Linked DNA regions of Homo sapiens. The protein of the gene in region 5 purifies or fractionates together with the protein of the main gene of each other region. This does not show direct contact. Each region holds a gene or a part of one and is shown on either strand. Other genes may lie near its edges. The genes, in order: TGFBRAP1, VPS33A, ZNF622, VPS8 and LSG1.

Region 1 (4,107 bases), on a different chromosome or scaffold from region 5:
ATTTTAGGAGGCCAAGGCAGGTGGATCACCTGAGGTCAGGAGTTCAAGACCAGCCTGGCCAACATGGTGAAACTCTGTCTCTATTAAAAATATATATTTTTTAAATTAGCTGGGTGTGGTGGACGGGCACCTGTAATCCCAGCTACTCGGGAGGCTGAGGCAGGAGAATCACTTGGACCCGGGAGGTGGAGGTTGCAGTGAGCCGAGATCACACCATTGCACTCCAGCATAGGCAACAAGAGCGAAATTCCATCTCATAAAAAACAAAACAAAACAACTCAGAGGATTATCATGTGTGTGAACATACCCCTTTCTTCAGGGTGGGAATAGCACCTGGAATTAAAGAACATGAGAAAGTGCTCTGAAATTCAACAGGATAGCTGAAAGACCTGCCATCAACAACAGTGTAGGGGATGAAGCAAAATTTAAAAGGTACGATTTTGTAAGAGTTATGTTCTTTGAATATGCTCAGGGTTAGAAATCCAAGAGTGCAGCCTTATTTAAGAGTATCTGGCTAAAAGGTAAAGTAGATAAGAAGTAATCAGAAGTCTCCCTGGTTGAATTCCTCAGTGCATGATTAATCTGATGGCAACCAATGTCAAGGAGCACCCTAAAATATGCATTGGGTAAATTCAGAAGCAGACACGTTAAAATTTGGTAAAACAATAGCAGAATTTAAGGGGTTGGCAACTCAAGTCCTCTGTAGGTGCTAGGAAAAGCAAGAAGGTACAGATTCTAGAACTCTTTATTTAGACTAGGTATGGTGCGAGTGAAAACCATCACTCCATCAAGGCAATTTTTATTTTAAAAAATTACAGAAAGAACAAAGAACTAAAAGAATTTTAATAAAATGAGCAAGTTTACATTTGTACATTTTGTGTATCTGGGACCCAATCGGGACAAAGGATAAAGTTGCAAGGACAAAGGTTTCTGTGGGAGAGCAAGCAAAAAGCAAGGGCTGCCCCAGTTGCATCATGGGCATCCATTCAGAGCTGGGACCCCGCAGCCACCTGCCTGTGCTCCGGAAGTGAGAAGCACATGTAAGCACGCGTCAGTGAGAGCGTCGCAGTTGAACTCAGCCCAGTGCAACGCAGCCTGAGTGACATCCCTACATTAATACTTGATAGGGAACAGCAGATAAACAGTTCCAAAAACCAAATGGTATTGCCCATAGAATATGAATGTAAACTGAGTTCAGTTCATGCTGTTTTAACCAGAATGGTTCCACTGAACCTAATGAGGGGAAAAAGGTCTGATGGATCTAATTGCTCTATTCGATGGCACAGTTACAAATCAGCAGGCCTGTGAGAAAGAACCATACATTTCTCTCAGAAATATGATTTGAGAAAAGGGCCTTGTAGGAGTGAGAGAAAGGTTAGAGAAAAGTACAGTTTTAACATATGAGACAATTCTTCATACTGTAATAGAATGCTGCTTGTGGTGAAGGATTTGGTAGAGATGGAAAACTGCTCAACTTTAATTCCCATTATTCTAAAGGATGACAAACATTTTAGAGTATTGATCAATGTTCAGTGAAAAAATAAAAATGACTAGTGTTGGCTGGGCGCAGTGGCTCACGCCTGTAATCCCAGCACTTTGGGAGGCCGAGGCAGGCAGATCACGAGGTCAGGAGACCGAGACCATCCTGGCCAACATGGTGAAACCCCGTCTCTACTAAAAATACAAAAATTAGCTGGGCGTGGTGGCATGCACCTGTAGTCCCAGCTACTCGGGAGGCTGAGGCAGCAGAATCGCTTGAACCCAGGAGGTGGAGGTTGCAGTGAGCCGAGATTGCGCCACTGCACTCCAGCCTGGGTGACAGAGTGAGACTCTGTCTGTGTGTTAGGAATGAGAAATTACTAAGTTTTTTCAAGATTTTACCCATTTTGTGTACAGAGAAATAAGCTTTTAATGGCGCAATGTTGCATATACGGGTAACTTGTTCTTTGAGAAATATAAACTCAAACTCACAAGTTGTCATGATAACATATGCAGTAATATGACCATTCTACAACAGAGTCACCCACAGGTAAAACACATGACTGGGCTTTGAGCTCACACCAATTTACACAGCATACAGTTGTGCTACAAGGAGAATTTCTTCATCATTTATTCTTTAGTTAATTGAAACATAGTCAGGAAAAAATGGTGCCAATTCCCCCCAAACAACACATGGATGTTTTTGCTTCTTGACCCACTTAGAGTCCCAAAAGGACAAAAAATACATGGACCAATATTAGTTCACGAAACATGTTTTAAAGAACAGAGAATGAGGTCTTCATCCCACCTCAGTAAGGCTTGGGCTGATGAAGAGAGGGTGTATTCAGGGTCCTCTCTTGTCATATGTACAAGCTGACGCTTGTTTCCCAAGCATGATAGTAGTGGGTAGACTGCCTTTATTGTTAGCCCCTAATAGAATCAGTCAGCACAATGAAGAAATTCCAAAGAGGGCAGTGAAGTGACAACAGCTTCAGCTCGTCATCGATGTTATACAGAAACACAAAAGGAATCCCCGGCCTGTGATGAAGGAGAGGCCGTTGCTGTGTGTTCAGGACACCTCAGAGCAGGCACATAAAGTGCTGGAGGGTGACACAGCCTGTCTGGATGTCCTCGGGAGGGTGTGCCATCCAGGAGGCGACACCCCCATCCAGCACACGGGCCCTTCCACCCGCTGTCGGTCCTGCTAAAGGTACGAGGCTAAAACCGGCCTCTCCAGAAAAGAACGCTCAGTGTGTGCTGACCACACTTCCCTTTGAATTTCCCGAGTATTCAACAGGAGATACATTTTAACAAGAAAAAATACCCCTAACAAACAGGACAGATGACTCTCTCAACAAGAGAGCAACTACGAACATGATACAAATTTAAATAAAAATGTTTAGTTCAACGTGTTCGTCATGGAGTTTCAAATCAGCAGATGCCATGACAGGAAAGGAGCACACAGCTGGGCCCTTGCCCGCCGTGGGTTTCCCGTGTCCGCGGCTTCTTCAAGGAGGGGAGAGCAGCTTCTCTCTTGGAGCGTTCTCAGTTTCTCAACAGATCTTCACTTGCTAGGCAGCCAGAAGCATTAGTTCACCCAAGAGTGAGTGCTTGGGTACACAAGGCAGAATCTTTTGGGAGCTGAGAGCCGGAGAGGAAGAAAGAAGGAACAAAGGTACTTCTCCAGGGTCAGCCGTTTCTGAGGGCAAAGGCAGAGCCCACGAGGTAACCCTGGGAAATGGGCCCATGAGTGAGCGGCGTGGATGGAGAACGTGTTTCTGCAGGAGGGCAAGGCTGACCCCCATGAGGCTCTGTGCCCTCGCCACTCACCCAGGCAAGAGAGGACTTTGTCGCCAGCCATGGTGAAGCCACGTTTCCAGTGCAAACATGAGTCTAAAGGTTGGAGTGTGGGGGTGGTGGGGGATCCCCCACCTGGGTCTGGACTGCATGAGGAAGACTCCCTTTTTTTTTTTTTCAAAGTAGACCTCTGTCTTGGATTACTATGTACCTGGACAGGTGAACTCTTGTATGTTTCTGTTTTGGGGATTTTTAGGGGTTTTCCATGTACATTCATAGAGCCTGGTCATTCCATGTACATTCATAGAGCCTGGTCAGCAGCGAGGAGTCCTTGTTGCGTATGGACGGAAGGCTCCCTGGCACCCAGATGTCTCCCTTCGTCCTGGCTGACACAGAGCATGGTGGTCATCTGCTCTTCATGTCCAGCAGGCTCAGAAAGAACTCGGAGTTCCCCTCGCACCCTTGGGCCAAGCTTTTCAAGTCCGAGTGCCAGGACTGGATGAGCTGGGGTTTGTGTGTCTGCTGGCGGCACAGTGGGTGTGCACAAGACCACCATTTGGGTATCTAACAAACACAGGCTCACAAAAGGGATTTTGGCATATCTGACAAAGCTTTTTGTCTGAGAGTTGGATTGAGCTTCCTTTCAACTTCATCTGCAAGAAGAAACCAAGACTGAGAATGCTGTCATGTGTTAAGTATATTTAAAGTGGCTACGTTCTAGTTTTGCAGAGTTGACATGCATTACTCCATGGGTTATTATTATGATGAGGATTTCTTTAATATCAACTTCTTGAAATGAAATGCTAAAGGTGTAAATAAAACCATCCTTAG
Region 2 (4,196 bases), on a different chromosome or scaffold from region 5:
TGGCACAAACATGGTTCACTGCAACCGCCTCCTGGGCTCAGTGATCCTCTAACCACAGCCCCTCGGACTAAAGGCTCATACTACCACTGGCCATTTTTTTTGTAGAGACAAGGTTTTGCCATGTTGCCCAGGCTGGTCTCGAACTCCTGGACTCAAGCGATCTGACCCTTCAGCCTCCCAATATACTGGGATTACAAGAATGAGCCACCGAGCCTGCCCCATAACTTTTTTTTTTTTTTTTTTGAGACAGAGTCTTGCTCTGTCGCCCAGGCTGGAGTGCAATGGCATGATCTGAGCTCACTACAACCTCCGCCTCCCAGGTTCAAGCAATTCTCCTGCCTCAGCCCCCCAAGTAGATGGGATTACAGGCACGCACCACAATGCTGGGCTAATTTTTGTATTTTTAGTAGAGATGGGGTTTCCCATGTTAGTCAGGCTGTTCTCAAACTCCTGAGCTCAAGTGATCTGCCCGCCTCGGCCTCCCAAAGTGCTGGGATTATAGGTGTGAGCCACCGCGCCCAGCCCACATCTTTATTAAACTCTCCAGAAACTCCCCAGTTTAAGAGCATTCTCTGTGTCCTTCTAGGATTCTGATGGATACAATACATGCATACATTACTTTTTCAAAAACATTAGAAAATTGTTTTCAGAAAGCAAGGCAGATGTGTAGGTTCAGAAGCATGTGTTGTCACCTGGACGATCTAACCAGTCCCTAAGCTGAGACGAGGTGGAGAAGTGTGGCTTACTTGCTCATTAACATCATCCATCCAGAGGCGTAATGTTTTCCGTATAGTTGGGTAATTGTTTCTGCCCCCCGTCTGCGGTTTCAGCAGGCCGGCCTTCTCCAGGTTGTGTAAGGTCAATATGTGCTCATAGCCGTATGTCTGCAAGGGAAGTCATTTGGCCTTGATGTCAGATCAGGAAAAGGATTTCTGCAATTTTCAAAGAAGGGCACTTCCAACAAATCAATTTGGTTTGTACTGCAGGACATGTTACCAAAGTCCAGCAATGTTAGTGGATGGGCACAGAGGACAGGGTGGAGGGATGAAACTTGTCCTAAAACTGCTTGCCTGTTACTATTAATTCAGCTCACTGTTTCAAAGAGAAATTTAAAATTTTTACTTTAAAGTCAGAATTTATGGACCCAATCTAAGCAAGCATCAAATAAATGATAGTATATTTTTATAAGGGATATAATTAGCTCTAAAAAAGAGTAAGGCATATGTATACATCCTGATAAGAAAGGTCTCCAGAATATATTAAAAAAAAAATAACATGTAGAGTAGGACATTATTTCTATTTTTAAAAAGTAGCCAAGGTCTGGGCATGCTGGCTCACACCTGTAATCCCAGTACTTTGGGAGGCCGAGGCGGGCCAATCACTTGAAGTCAGGAGTTTGAGACCAGCCTGGCCAACATGGTGAAACCCTGTCTCTACTAAAAATTAAAAAATTAGCTGGGCCTGGTGGCATGTACCTGTAATCCCAGCTACTCGGGAGGCTGAGGCAGGAGAATCGCTTGAACCCAGGAGGTTACAGTGAGCCAAGATTGTGCCACTGCACTCCACTCTGGGCAACAGGGTGAGATACTGTCTCAAAAAATAAATAAATTTTAAAAAGTAGCCAACACTTATAAAATACTTTCTATGAGCTGGGCACTGTTCTGGTCTAAGCACTTACATACATTAACTCAGTCATCCCGGCTCTAACCCCATGACGTAGGTATCATTACCTTCATTTTACAGAGATGTTTAAATAACCTGCCTAAAGTCACACAGCTAGTGAAGAGCAGAGCTGAAACCTGGATCCAGCCAGTCTTGCTCTGAAGTCTGTGTATGGAAACATTCTGTCTAAATGCAAAGAATGGAGTTTGGAAGGAAGCAAATCAGACTGCTGACACTGGTCACATCTGGGGAGGGAAACTGGGGTATGAGCAAGGTACAGGGGACGTTCACATTTTGCTCTGTGTACTTCTGCATTATTTGACTCTTACACAAGGATACATAACTTAAAAAAAGACAAAAACAAAAAATTAATGAGCACTCAATTTTAATAAAAATGTACTTAACTGTCACTGGTAACAGCAAATAAATACTACCTGAGTCATTTTCAAACAAAGGGGAGACTTTTCAAAAACAAGAGTGGCCTTTTCCTTATTATAAGTAACACAGGCTTAATTTAAGTAAACCTGCTAAGCAACTGTCATCAGAAATTTGCAGAAAGTTCTTTTCCTCCGTGGTATAACTGCGGAGTTAAGAACATGGGCGCTACACTCAAATTGCCTGGTTTACCACTGGCTGTGCCACTTACCAGCCAGGTAACCTTGGGTGAGTTACCTAAACTAGTCTGTGCCTCAGTTTTTCATCCATAAAACTGGGACGATAGCAGTCTCTAACTCACAAGGCTGTTGTGAATATTTGTTGTTGTTGTTATGGTAACTACAGTTAACAAGGAAGTATTGTGAAGATGAAACAAATGAATGCACATAAAGTTTTTCTTTTTTTTTTTTTTTTTTTTGAGACGGAGTCTCGCTCTGTCGCCCAGGCCGGACTGCGGACTGCAGTGGCGCAATCTCGGCTCACTGCAAGCTCCGCCTCCCGGGTTCACGCCATTCTCCTGCCTCAGCCTCCCGAGTAGCTGGGACTACAGGCGCCCGCCACCGCGCCCGGCTAATTTTTTGTATTTTTAGTAGAGTCAGGGTACAGAGCCACCGCGCCCGGCCTATAAAGTTTTTCCAATAGATCCTAGCACATAGTAAATGCTCAAGAAATGTTACCTATTATTATTATTTTTTACTTTTTGTAAACAAGCTATGTTGCCTAGGCTGGTTTTGGACTCCTGGGCTCAAGCAATCCTCCTAACTCAGCCTCCTGGGTAGCTGGGACTGCAGACACAGCCACCATGCCTGGTAAATTTTTGTATTTTTTTTGTAGAGACAGGGTCTTGCTATGTTGCCAGGCTGGTCTTGGCCTCCAGCGATCCTCCTGCCTCAGCCCCACAAAATATTGAGATAACAGAGGTGAGCCACTGTGCCCAGCCTGTTAGCTATTATTATCACACAAATACAATAAACAGTGATGGCTACCAAGACCAATTCCTCTAGGTGTTAAAAAATTTATACAACAGTCGTTACAAGATACCAAAATGGCAGCTTTGTAATTTTTATTTTTTTTAATTTTAAATTTTTTATTATTATTTTTTGAGACAGAGTCTCACTCTGTTGCCCAGGCTGGAGTGCAGGGGCATGATCTTGACACACTGTAACCTCCGCCTCCTGCGTTCAAGCGATTCTCCTGCCTGATCCTCTCAAATAGCTGGGACTACAGGTGCATGCTACCATGCCTGGCTAATTTTTGTATTTTTAATAGAGATGGGGGTTTCACCATGTTGGCCAGGCTGGTCTCAAACTCCTAACCTCAAGTGATCCACCTGCTTTGGCCTCCCAAAGTGCTGGGATTACAGGCGTAAGCCACTGTGCCCGGCCCATGAAGTATTTTTTAAAAAGATGCTGTCCCCCTTGGCAAATTAATAATTTAAAAATATACTCACCTGGAGAATCTCTCTTTTGTAATAATCCAAAACTTTTTGTTTGAGCCCACTATTACACACGGATTGGAGGCAAACTAGTCTTAACACCTTGATCAACGAGTGCTTTTGGGCGATACAATCCTCAATGTAATTGTTGACCTGGAAATAAAGTAGCATACATATACATATACATTTACATATACATACACACACACACACACACACACACACACACACACACAATACATGGTTTAGGAACTTAACTTGATGTTTATTATTATTTTTCAAAGTCCAATAAAGGAGATACGTGGGAAAATGAGTTATTTTTCCACAGTCCCTAACCCTTCCCCGAAATAGCTCTGCTAGCCCCAGCCACACACACACCCTGGCCACCACACACACACACACACCCCACACACACATACATACATACACACACACACACACACACACACACCCCCCAGTGATCAGGCCAAGTCACTGGAGCCCAAGGCCGCTGAGAATACAATTGGTCACTCCATATGCCTGTCTGGACACGTCTGTCTCTAAGGACACGCTTCTGAGAGGCTACCAGATGTCTACTCCATTTCAATAGTATCAACAACTAATCTAGCAAAAAGTATCAGTAATTGTTTTATGTTAGGAATTTTCATAAAGTGAATAATTTAAA
Region 3 (2,391 bases), on a different chromosome or scaffold from region 5:
AGTCTTTCTAAAATGATACCTAAGCATTTTACCTTTACTTTCCTCCTAGACTAACTGCACCACTGGAAACTGCATCAGACTACACAGTAGTCACTCTGTGCAGTCATGTTTAGAAATATAAAACCTTTACAGCAAGCTATTGATGTGCTTTTTAACTTAGCCTGGATTTAATGCAAGCGCCCAGAGATATTCAGTACCTCCTGTACCATGATACATTCCATGAGTGACATTCAACTTTGCCCCTACATAAGCCTTCAAGCCCCCTTACATAGGTCCCAGTGCCATGACATGGTGAGTTACTCTCAAAGTTAAACTAAGTTTGGGGCACACAAGTCATTCCTGATTCCTCACATTACTCTGACAATCATAAATCATTTAAAGCTGAGGCGATGAAGCAACTGTCAGGCAGCAGTGCAAGTCCCAGGGTCCAGTAGACACAGGACTTACCTTGTGAAAACATAACCTTTCAACACTATTCAAAAACGACATCTGAAAACTCATATGGTTCTAACTTTTATTATTAGGTCAGAACGAATGAAGTAGCAGCAAAAGGGTCTCTCCTATGATCTGTCTTTCACTGGTCCTCAGGGCAAGGAGGAAACTTGGGCAGGAGATGATTGCTCAATCCCAGCAGACTCTCAGAATCTCACTTGGACCCGAAAGTGCATCTGCTTGGTGGCATTGTTCTTCATTCCTGTCTTCAGCATCCATTTTGATTTCATCCTTTGGACATACTGCATGTCTCGCTCTCGCATAAGAGCCGCTCCTATGATTGGAAGGCAGTTAAGAAATTAGGCAAAGTTCTGTTATTTGTGATCAGAGAAAATCCAACCTTGGCAGAGAATTCAAAAGGTTAGTTTGGGGTAACTAGGTTCTTGTATTTAAAACAGAGTTGCTAACTTGGGGTCTCTAAGCCATGCGCCTCAGGGGTCTCTGTGGACTCCAGAATTGCATACCAGAACTTTTGTATATATACACTTATCTGGGATTAGTAGCTTTAGTTTTCATCATCTGGAAGAGTTTATAAGCCCAAAAGGTAAAGCCCCATTAATCAGAAAGGCAGAAGCTATATATCGAGTCAGACAATACTTCCTGATAAGAGTAAGATGAAGTCAAGTCTCTGCCAGATTCAAGTGGCCACACAGCTCACAAGCAGCCACAGTGAAGGAAACCACATATAAACACAGTGCCTTTTCAAATGGATTTTAGTTGCCTAGAGCTTCCCAGGCCATCAGAAGGCAGCCCGCCTCTTATTTTCTCCACAGTCCTCAGTTGGATAGATGCTTTCCCTGAAGATCTAAGGATATAACCAGCTTCATCCAGCAGACACATCAGAATAGATGTAAAGAGTACCATACTGATGAGGTTTCAAAACTCAACAATTGCAGTGGCATGCTTTACTCTTCTAACTTTTGCTAAATTTTCTATGGGAAAATTACAAAAAAGGGGACTGATAGCTAACCTCGACTATGGGCATGCACTATATCACACATGCATGACATTCAACCCACTCAACTCTAAGAGGTAGGTCTTATTACTATCATCTCTGTTTTATAAATGAGGAAACAGAAGCTTATATTAATTAAATTACTCATGTTCATCATATAAGAACCTCTAAGTACATCACATAAGTCACGTCTGACTCCACAGCTCAAGCTATTAACCACTAGGATACTATCTAATTCCTCTGCATAACCTCCAGGATAATTTCAACCTTTGGTGATTACTAAATAATTCTTTTTGTAACTATTATCTTCTGAAAAAGTTAATGGTATATAAAATCACTGTGCCAGGAATATGAAATTTCTAAGTCATAGCACTTTGGGCTTATTGCCTTAAACATATCAAGTGGTAATGGAAGTCCCTGGAGCCAAGACGTTACGTTTCCCCTAGAGAGAATCCACATGGACAACATAAATGGAAACAACTTTCCCCAGACCCCTTCTAGAAATACAAGTTCTCAGACTGGTCTGTAGTTGTAAAGATCAATGTACCTGTGCTGCCAGTCCATCCCAGGGCTCTGTACTGCTGAAGTACTCGGCCCACGGCCTTCCGATTTTTGGCAACTGCCACAGCTCTTGACAAGCCAAATCGCTGTTTGTAGTATCTCATCAAGGAGCGATGACCCACTCTGGCACCTGTTTTTCAAAAGAGCAATACTGAAACACTGAGTTGGATAGTTTTTTCAAGGCAGAGCTATAAAGCAAGGGCTTTCCAAATCAGATCTTTTAGTATATCTAGATGGAAAATCGATGTACCAGAAGAAACAGTTGTTCTATCTACTAAAGACAGATGAAGCAGCATGTAAAATAAAAATAAAAAGTGAAAGAAAGCAAGCATGCAACAAAAAGAAAACCAAACAATAGATTTTTTAAAAAGAAAATGACAAGT
Region 4 (4,165 bases), 9.6 Mb from region 5:
AAGAAGGAGCACCACTCTTTCCTCCGGCTGCCAAGTAACCTAGTAGGTTCTGCCTAAGAAAGGGGAGTGCGTGAAGGGGGCCCAGGTAGAGAAGCAGAGGACACAGCAGTTTGCACAAGCTCGAGACAAGCTCAGGAACAAATGGGACCACCTAGAATTGAGGTGTGATTTGGGGAGTGAAGAAGATGGTAGGGTTTGGACTCATTCTTTAGGTGGTGGAGATCCAGAATGTGTTATAAGCAAGGGAGTAACATGACATACTTGGTTTTAGAAAGGGTAGCCAGGCAGCAGCATGGAGAGGGGACAGAAGGGTTTCTAGCCAATCAGAAGACCTGCAGTGGCCTCCGTGAGTGATAAGGAGGCCCCACCCGGGGTAGTGGTAAAAGAGGGATTAGTAGACAAGATCCCACAGGATGTCCCCAGTCAGGTGGCAGGAAGGTGAGGAGTGAGCCTAGTGCTGCCAGGTCTCTGCTCTAGGTGGTTGGATGACAGAGGTATCATTCCTGAGGCAGGCACCAGGCATGAAGAACAGGTCGAGAAAGCGATGAGTACATGTCCAAAGTGCCTGGGGGACACCCGGTCTGATGTGGTGGCAGTGACTGATAGAAGCCCTCCAGTCTGTACTCTTCTTCCACAGTTAGATTAGACCAAGAATTGTAGCCCAAGGTCTTTTGGAATAAAAATCAATTTTCCCAGTCTCCATTGCAGTGAGGTATGGTCATGGGTCTAAATTCTAGACAGTGGAGGTAAGTGGAAGCAACCATGTTGAACCATACGAGTTTAAGTCATGTGCTAAGGAAGGCAGAGCAACAGGACAGAAGAAAGCTGAAGGGAGGTACGTGGATGTGCCCTGGCTGGCTGCATTTACACTTCTCTCTTGCTTAAACCACTACTACTTTGCATTTGTCTTTCATGGCCAAAACTAATTCAACCAGTGCAGATGCCCAGGAGGGTCTAGGGCTTCGGACAGATTGGGCACCTATCCATATCCTAAGCAAAGCCCTCCTGGGATCAACCTTCTGGCCTGCTCTCTCTGGAGGGAGGTCAAACACAGAGGCCCTTCTGTGTCCTCACAGCTCATGGTACGTAGGGGACAGACAGCTTTCTACTTCCTTTGCTCTCTTTGCCAAGCTCTGAGTGCTCCTTGGGGCCAGGGTCTGTTGTCCATGTAGCCATAACAGGGATGCCAGGGCACCTTCCAGGCTAGAAGGAGGCTAGAGGGAGGTTCCAAGACACTGCCTGTCTAAAGCAGTAAACTATAAATAGGGAAATAAAAATATAAACAACCACGCAAACATTACCCTGGAGCTTCCTCGGTAGAGACGGCAAAGCTGATCAAATGCTTGGATTTGCTGTGGATCCAGAACAGGTTCTGAGGTTCCCTGAAAAATAAAAACCGATACGATTAACAACATCACGTGGCTAGGCAGCCTCTCAACTTGCTCTACACGATGCTGAAGCATAACATGGTGCTTCCTTCATTCTCCTGAAAACAATCCATGCTACCAGCTATTAGTGAGATATATACTGAACATGAGTTAGAAATCGGCACGTCCCCTAAGATCCCTCCTTGGTGTGGCTGCAGGTTGACCTGTCTGTGGACCCTTTTCCCAATGGAGTCTCCAAATGTCCCGTATGTATAGGTTCCTTTCAGGTTTCTTGATCCCTCTTTGGCACCATTATGCAGAGCTAGTTAGTTCCTTCCAGCCTTGCATTCCCATGTCCATCACTTCATACGGCCAGCAAAGATACCGCTTTTCTCTGTCATGGTAACAGGAGACGCACTGTCATTTAAAAATCTCATCCCTGTCTCATTATAAAGCTGGTCGCCACCTATGGGGTTGCAAGATTCGTCTGCTGCTTTTGGGAAAAGGGCCGGTCTAGCCTGCTCTTACAGCAGCCATGTTTTGTTCCACCTGTTATTGTGGTGGGACCTGCCAAACTGCGGTTCTTCTCTCAGTGGACCTGATCCAGCTCATATGCAGAGAGAAGAAATGGGATCCTGGGGGAGGCGGCCATAAGCTTTGGAGTCAGAGGAGAATCTGGATACTAGTTCTGACAGTAACCTGCTATGTAACTTTAGGCAAGTCACCTCACTTCTCTAAGCCTCAATTGCCTCACCTGTGGGAAGGAAGGGGTAATGCTTACCTTTTGAGATTACCAAAAATTAAATGAGATATATATTTAAAGTGTCGCCTGCCTAGTACCAGGCGAGGGCTCAGTATACGCTAGCTTTTCTTACAATTCAGAGATACCCATAGTTAAAAGTTGATTTCAGAAGTGTTTTTGTTTATGTATAAGATTGGTAAAAGGACGTTTTTCTTTGCCCTATATCATGAACCTGTCCCAAGCGTCTGCACTGCACAGGTTGGTGGGTAAGAGCCTGCACTGCAGAGTTCATCAGCCTAAGCCCAAACCCTGGCTTTAGCAATTACTAGCAGCATAATCTTAGGCAAGTTCTCCGAGTTGGGTACTTTTTGCTTGTTTGTTTGTTTTTGCTCACATGGGGATAATGACTATAGCTACATCACATAAAGTGGCTATGAAGATTCAAGAAGGTAATGCACACAGAACACGTAGCAGATGCACGGGACTCTGCAAGTTCTCACTGAGCGCTACTAACTAGAGAGCACAGGAAGGCCCGCAGGTACTGCGCACAGAGCCAGTCTCCAAGAAGCAACATCATGTGGCCCTCGTCCTGATGTGGCTACAGAAACAGAAAGGAAGGGGACATCAGAGCAACGTGCACAGGCAAAACTGGGTAATGAAGGAGGTTGGGGGATGTGCAGGAGAGGGTATGCCGAGTGTGAGAGGGAAAACTTTATGGAAATGAGAGCTGCTAAGGTCAGCTCCCTCTGTCTTGCTCACCAGTGCCCAGTACTGTGCTTGCACAGAGCAGCCACAGAGTCATCATCTGCTGATCAAATGAAGGGATGGGAGGGCCGGCATGCAGATTTCTGATTTCTTACTATTTATCACTGGCGTTGTGACCAACCCTCGCCATGCAGTAAGAACACAGGGCAGGGCTCTGACACACTTGGGCTCAATCTGGACTCTGCCCAAGACTAGGTGAGTGGCTCTGGGCAAGGAATTTAGCTTCTCTCAGTCTCAGTTTCTTTATCTGTAAAACTCTACTTTGCAGAATTGTTATGAAAATTAGACATAATGTATGGGCTTGGCATCTATTTGATGTTCAATCAATGGCAGTAATTACTGCGATTGTGTTGTTTATACTCCCAGAGAGAAGTGTCCCCCTAGAAAGAACAATGGGATGAAATCAGGAAACATGGGCTCCAATCCTGTTACCAGCTCCCTGTATAACCTGAGGAGGTCACATCTCTCCTCTGAGTCTTTGTTCCAATTGATCAAAGGGCAATGCCACCTCAGGCCACACTCCACCATCCAGGGAAGAGGTGGGCACCATGAGATTAACAGGCATTTAGGGCATGAAAGTTTCAAGAAAAACAGTAATGTTTACTGAGCCTAATCATGGCTTTTATCTTTTACTGCATATTCAGAAGCAAATTAGGGGCAATGTCACAAAGATACATGGCAGCCCTGAAGATAAGTAACAGTTTCCGTCTACAGATGCCAAATTAAGGTCAGACAAAAAATAAAGGGGAAGCAACCAAATATGAACATAATCTCTGTTCACTCCAAAAACATAAAAGTATTCTCAGACCACTAAACCTCCCCAAGGATAAAACTGGTTAGGAGTGATTTTCCAACTGGAAGAGAAGGAAAAATGCATTTGCTGCTGTCTGTTAGAGCAAATTTCTTTCTTCCCATGTAACAAAGTCCAGTGTTAAGAGCTAAAAATTAAACTGTAGTGAATACGAGAGGAAGAAACAGTGGCAACCCTGGAAATGACCTTGTAGTACTCAGCATTAAAGGAAATCCTGTGGAAAACGAGGTCCTGATGATCTCTGAGAGCCCCAGGGAGAGGGGTGTTGGGCTAACATGGGGTGCCAGCACATTGCAAAGCTCAGTGACTCACAGATGTGGAAGTGGGAGCAGTAACTACATCCGCTGGAAGGAAGAAAACAAATCAGGGCTTTCAGGATCCACAGACCTCTTTTTTTTTTTTTTTTTTTTAGACGGAGTCTTGCTCTGTCACCCAGGCTGGAGTGCAGTGGCGTGATCTCAGCTCACTGAAACCTCAGCG
Region 5 (4,196 bases):
AAAGATGTGGCGGCAGTCATTTTTAAATAAATATTTCTGTGTAATTCAGATCCACTTTCATATAACTATATTCCTTGAGCTAGAAAACATGTTCTCTTATTTAAAAAAAGGAGAAATATCACATAACAAAAATAAGAGAGCAAATAATACTGTAATCCAAGCTGAAGCTAGAAGTTTCAACATGTACAGGCTCACTTGGGAAATTATTAGGGACATAAACAGTGTAAGAGGGGCTTCCTGTTAAACTGAACACAGATGGTTACCTCTGCTCCCTCTCAAAACCTACAAAAACAAAGGCTGAAACCCATTAGGATAAAGAGAAAGAACAGCAGCAACCAAATGTCAAACCAACAAGAAGCAAACCTGTTCATGCCCCTGACGCCCAAGAAAGCCCAGTATTAGAAACATCAGCTCTATCTCTCCAGGGCAAGAACGAGGCCCGCGCCCGTAATCCATCTGAACAGTGAGCTCATAGGTCGGCTACCCTGTTCCATTCAGTGAGGCAACTGCAACCCACCACACAGCCCCCATTCCCCACCCCAATAGCAGAAGGCTAGGGTTTATTATGGAGAAAATGAACTTGACAAGTTCCAGGACTGGGACCTCAGGCACAGGGAAAATGGGAAAGAGTTGCCATAGGGCAAAAAGGGGAATTCAGCATAAGCCTATGAAGATACTGAACTGTGAAGGTGCCCAGCACCCTTGTATTATACCACCTCCTGCCCCTTTCCTGGCAGGAGATCATTCTTCTTTTTAAAAACTGACTGGCACTGGGCACAGTGGCTCATGCCTGTAACCCCAGCACTTTGGGAGGCTGAAGTGGGTGGATCACCTGAGGTCAGGAGTTCGAGACCAGCCTGGCCAACATGGAGAAACCCCGTCTCTACTAAAAATACAAAATTAGCCGGGCGTGGTGGCGCGTGCCTGTAATCCCAGCTACTCGGGAGGCTGAGGCAGGAAAATCGCTTGAACCCAGGAGGTGGAGATTGCAGTGAGCCGAGATCACGCCACTGCACTCCAGCCTGGGTAACAAGAGCGAAAGTCCGTCTCAAAAAACAAAACAAAACCACACACACACAAAACTGACTGGCTCTGGGGAAAAGACCTACAGATCTTAACATCTTGGGGTATTCCAACAAAATAAAACTGACCCCTGCCCAGGCACCCTACAGTGAAGCTCACCAGTTGGCAAATTCCACCTAAACAGGCAGGCTTGTCAACCGGCTTTGTAATGCTTTGTTCTTAAAGACAGATAAACACCACTAGACACCTGAGGAAGGCCTCTTCCGTAAAAGTCAGAAACCAGGAGAAAAAGAAAAGGAACAAAGAGGAAAGACAGATAATATAGGAAGTAGGACAAAATCTGAAAACAAAACAAAAACTGTAATTAAGTGTGAAGATGGAGGGTGCTGTCCTCAAGGTCCGGGCTGCAGTACTTCTGCACTTGTTACCATTTCTCTTCGGAAATTAGAAAACGGGCATTCTCAGGAGTACACAGCATCAACTACCAAGGAGGCACCAACGAAGAGGCTACTCTGCTCCACAGCAGTTCCCCAGTTCCCCAGGAGAATGACTGTGGGCCTTCCGAAGCCCTCCTCAAGCTTGAGTAAAAGGAGCCTGCATGGACCCCAAATCAGCAGAAACCCTTTCCCTTCTTCCGCCTCAGAGAAAGCCTTTCCCTTCTTCCGCCTCAGAGAAAGCCTTTCCCTTCTTCCGCCTCAGAGAAAGCCTTTCCCTTCTTCCGCCTCAGAGAAAGCCTTTCCCTTCTTCCGCCTCAGAGAAAGCCTTTCCCTTCTTCCGCCTCAGAGAAAGCCTTTCCCTTCTTCCGCCTCAGAGAAAGCCTTTCCCTTCTTCCGCCTCAGAGAAAGCCTTTCCCTTCTTCCGCCTCAGAGAAAGCCTTTCCCTTCTTCCGCCTCAGAGAAAGCCTTTCCCTTCTTCCGCCTCAGAGAAAGCCTTTCCCTTCTTCCGCCTCAGAGAAAGCCTTTCCCTTCTTCCGCCTCAGAGAAAGCCTTTCCCTTCTTCCGCCTCAGAGAAAGCCTTTCCCTTCTTCCGCCTCAGAGAAAGCCTTTCCCTTCTTCTGCCTCAGAGAAAGCCTTTCCCTTCTTCTGCCTTAGAGATTTGCCTTGCTTCTCTGACCTCCCCGCATCCCAGCCCAAGAGCCCTTTCTGTACCCGTAGAGAGCTGAGGATGGGGGCATTCAAGTGACTTTGTCATCACCCTAATAGGAAATGTAAGTGACTTTTACAAGTTTAGTCCAAGTACTGTTTTCTTTTTTTTGGAGACAGAGTCTTGCTCTGTCACCCAGGCTGGAGTGCAGTGGTGCGATCTCGGCTCACTGCAACCTCCACCTCCTGGATTCAAGTGATTCTCCTGCCTCAGCTTCCCAAGTAGTAGCCAAGCCTGGCTATTTTTGTATTTTTAGTAGGGACAGGGTTTCACCACGTTCCTCAGGCTGGTATCGAACTGCTGACTTCAAGTGATCCACCTGCCTGGACCTCCTAAAGTGCTGGGATCACAGGTGTGAGCCACCGCGCTGGGCCCTGTTTTCTTAATAACAATGCTAAATGTGATAAGATTCTTTTCTGAGAATCCCAATTAAAGCATTCTGTTTCCTAGTGTTCTTACTAGGTTCACTTTATAGATTTCAAAGGAAAAAAAACCAGCCTGAAGGGTCCTTGTTGAAAACATTTCAAATATAAGGTTCATTTATGGCATCCTTGAAAGTAATTCAGAAACTCTTTGAGGAAAACAGAAACCTTTTAACTATACCAAAGAGGTGAGATTAGAGACAGGTGTTCATCAACTTCTAACAATCAGGAATTCTCCTTAGCATTACATGAAAAAGAATAAAGATCTCCCATTCTCAATTTGTCAAAATCATTCTCTTCTTTTCAGAGCCCAGTTAAAAAAAATAAAAACCAGGCCGGGCATGGTGGCTCATGCCTGTAATCCTAGCACTTTGGGAGGCTGAGGCGGGTGGATCACGAGGTCAGGAGTTCGAGACCAGCCTGACCAACATGGTGAAACCCTGTCTCTACTAAAAATACAAAAAAAAAAATTAGCTGGGCGTGGTGGTGTGCGCCTGTAATCTCAGCCACTTGGGAGGCTGAGGCGGGAGCACTGCTTGAACCCAGGAGGCGGAGGTTGTGGTGAGCTGAGATCGTGCCATTGCACTCCAGCCTGGGCAATAAGAGCAAAACTCCGTCTCAAATAAATAAATAAATAAATAAATAAATAAAAAACATAAAAACCACCCCGTGATTTCCTCAATACTTATCAACCACTCCTTCCTCTGCTATGACTCAGCCCACTGCCTTTCTATCTGCAGCAAAGCAGGAATCATACTGCCCTCTGTATTTCACTACGTATTAAGTTTTCTGAGTGCAAGAATTGCATGTCATTCATCTGTGTGTCCCTGGTGCCTGGTGCTTTGCTTAGCATTTAGCTGAACATGGTGTAACTCGGCTGACAGGAGCTCTGACATTCGCCTCTCCCCATAACATAGATGCTCTTTGCAGGCAGGAACTTAACTCTTTTTCGTATCCATATTTTCCACATTACCAGTAGAAACCAAATATACATTTGCTAAAATATCTATATAGGTGCTTCAGAATTCACCTTGCAGAAAATGTTCATTATTCTCACACACTTATCAACATATTCATCTAACAACAAAAAAACTATACAAAATATACGGTAGTATCATGCTGTGTTTTTATAATTCTCAGTAACCCTCTGCATAGCTTAATTCCCATACCCTGAGCCTATAAGCCTATATCAACAGCCAAATCGAATATAACTTCACTACAATGTCTTTATTACACAAAAGAAAATGATAATTCACCTTCTCTCAATGACTCTCCAGAGCTGGCGCCAAAAGTCCAAATTTCGTTCAAATGGAGTCAATATCAGCTTCTGTTCCTCTTCTAGCCTAGTTTTTGAATGAGAAGTTTATATATTTGCCAGATTATAATAGACAATTTTTAGCAGTGTAAATGCTCAAATTTATTACATTAAAAATAAGTACTGGGCACAAATATCCAGAGTCAAATTATTTTATATATTTCCTGCTGAGACACCATAAAAATACTATTTATTTAGACAATACTCCACCAAATTCAAATTTTATCCTGAAGCTATTTATGCCCTGGAAGTTTACCTATCACACAAAGTCATTTCTTTCCCACACTCTTACT

What was found.
Region 1: the proteins of LSG1 (region 5) and TGFBRAP1 purify together in Homo sapiens (co-immunoprecipitation; one large-scale study listed by IntAct). This does not show direct contact.
Region 2: the proteins of LSG1 (region 5) and VPS33A purify together in Homo sapiens (co-immunoprecipitation; one large-scale study listed by IntAct). This does not show direct contact.
Region 3: the proteins of LSG1 (region 5) and ZNF622 purify together in Homo sapiens (affinity purification with western blotting; one study listed by BioGRID). This does not show direct contact.
Region 4: the proteins of LSG1 (region 5) and VPS8 purify together in Homo sapiens (co-immunoprecipitation; one large-scale study listed by IntAct). This does not show direct contact.

Annotation. Positions count from the first base shown.
Region 1 is NC_000002.12:105,263,631-105,267,737, forward strand, and holds the end of TGFBRAP1 (transforming growth factor-beta receptor-associated protein 1), read right to left. Parts: intron 3,930-4,107; coding exon 3,753-3,929; 3' UTR 784-3,752; downstream 1-783. UniProt on the Homo sapiens protein: Plays a role in the TGF-beta/activin signaling pathway. It associates with inactive heteromeric TGF-beta and activin receptor complexes, mainly through the type II receptor, and is released upon activation of signaling.
Region 2 is NC_000012.12:122,235,040-122,239,235, forward strand, and holds part of VPS33A (vacuolar protein sorting-associated protein 33A), read right to left. Parts: intron 3,686-4,196; coding exon 3,548-3,685; intron 885-3,547; coding exon 747-884; intron 1-746.
Region 3 is NC_000005.10:16,451,019-16,453,409, forward strand, and holds the end of ZNF622 (cytoplasmic 60S subunit biogenesis factor ZNF622), read right to left. Parts: intron 2,139-2,391; coding exon 1,995-2,138; intron 767-1,994; coding exon 639-766; 3' UTR 501-638; downstream 1-500. UniProt on the Homo sapiens protein: Pre-60S-associated cytoplasmic factor involved in the cytoplasmic maturation of the 60S subunit.
Region 4 is NC_000003.12:185,045,696-185,049,860, reverse strand, and holds part of VPS8 (vacuolar protein sorting-associated protein 8 homolog), read right to left. Parts: intron 1,383-4,165; coding exon 1,302-1,382; intron 1-1,301. UniProt on the Homo sapiens protein: Plays a role in vesicle-mediated protein trafficking of the endocytic membrane transport pathway.
Region 5 is NC_000003.12:194,661,713-194,665,908, forward strand, and holds part of LSG1 (large subunit GTPase 1 homolog), read right to left. Parts: intron 3,932-4,196; coding exon 3,845-3,931; intron 1-3,844. UniProt on the Homo sapiens protein: Functions as a GTPase. May act by mediating the release of NMD3 from the 60S ribosomal subunit after export into the cytoplasm during the 60S ribosomal subunit maturation.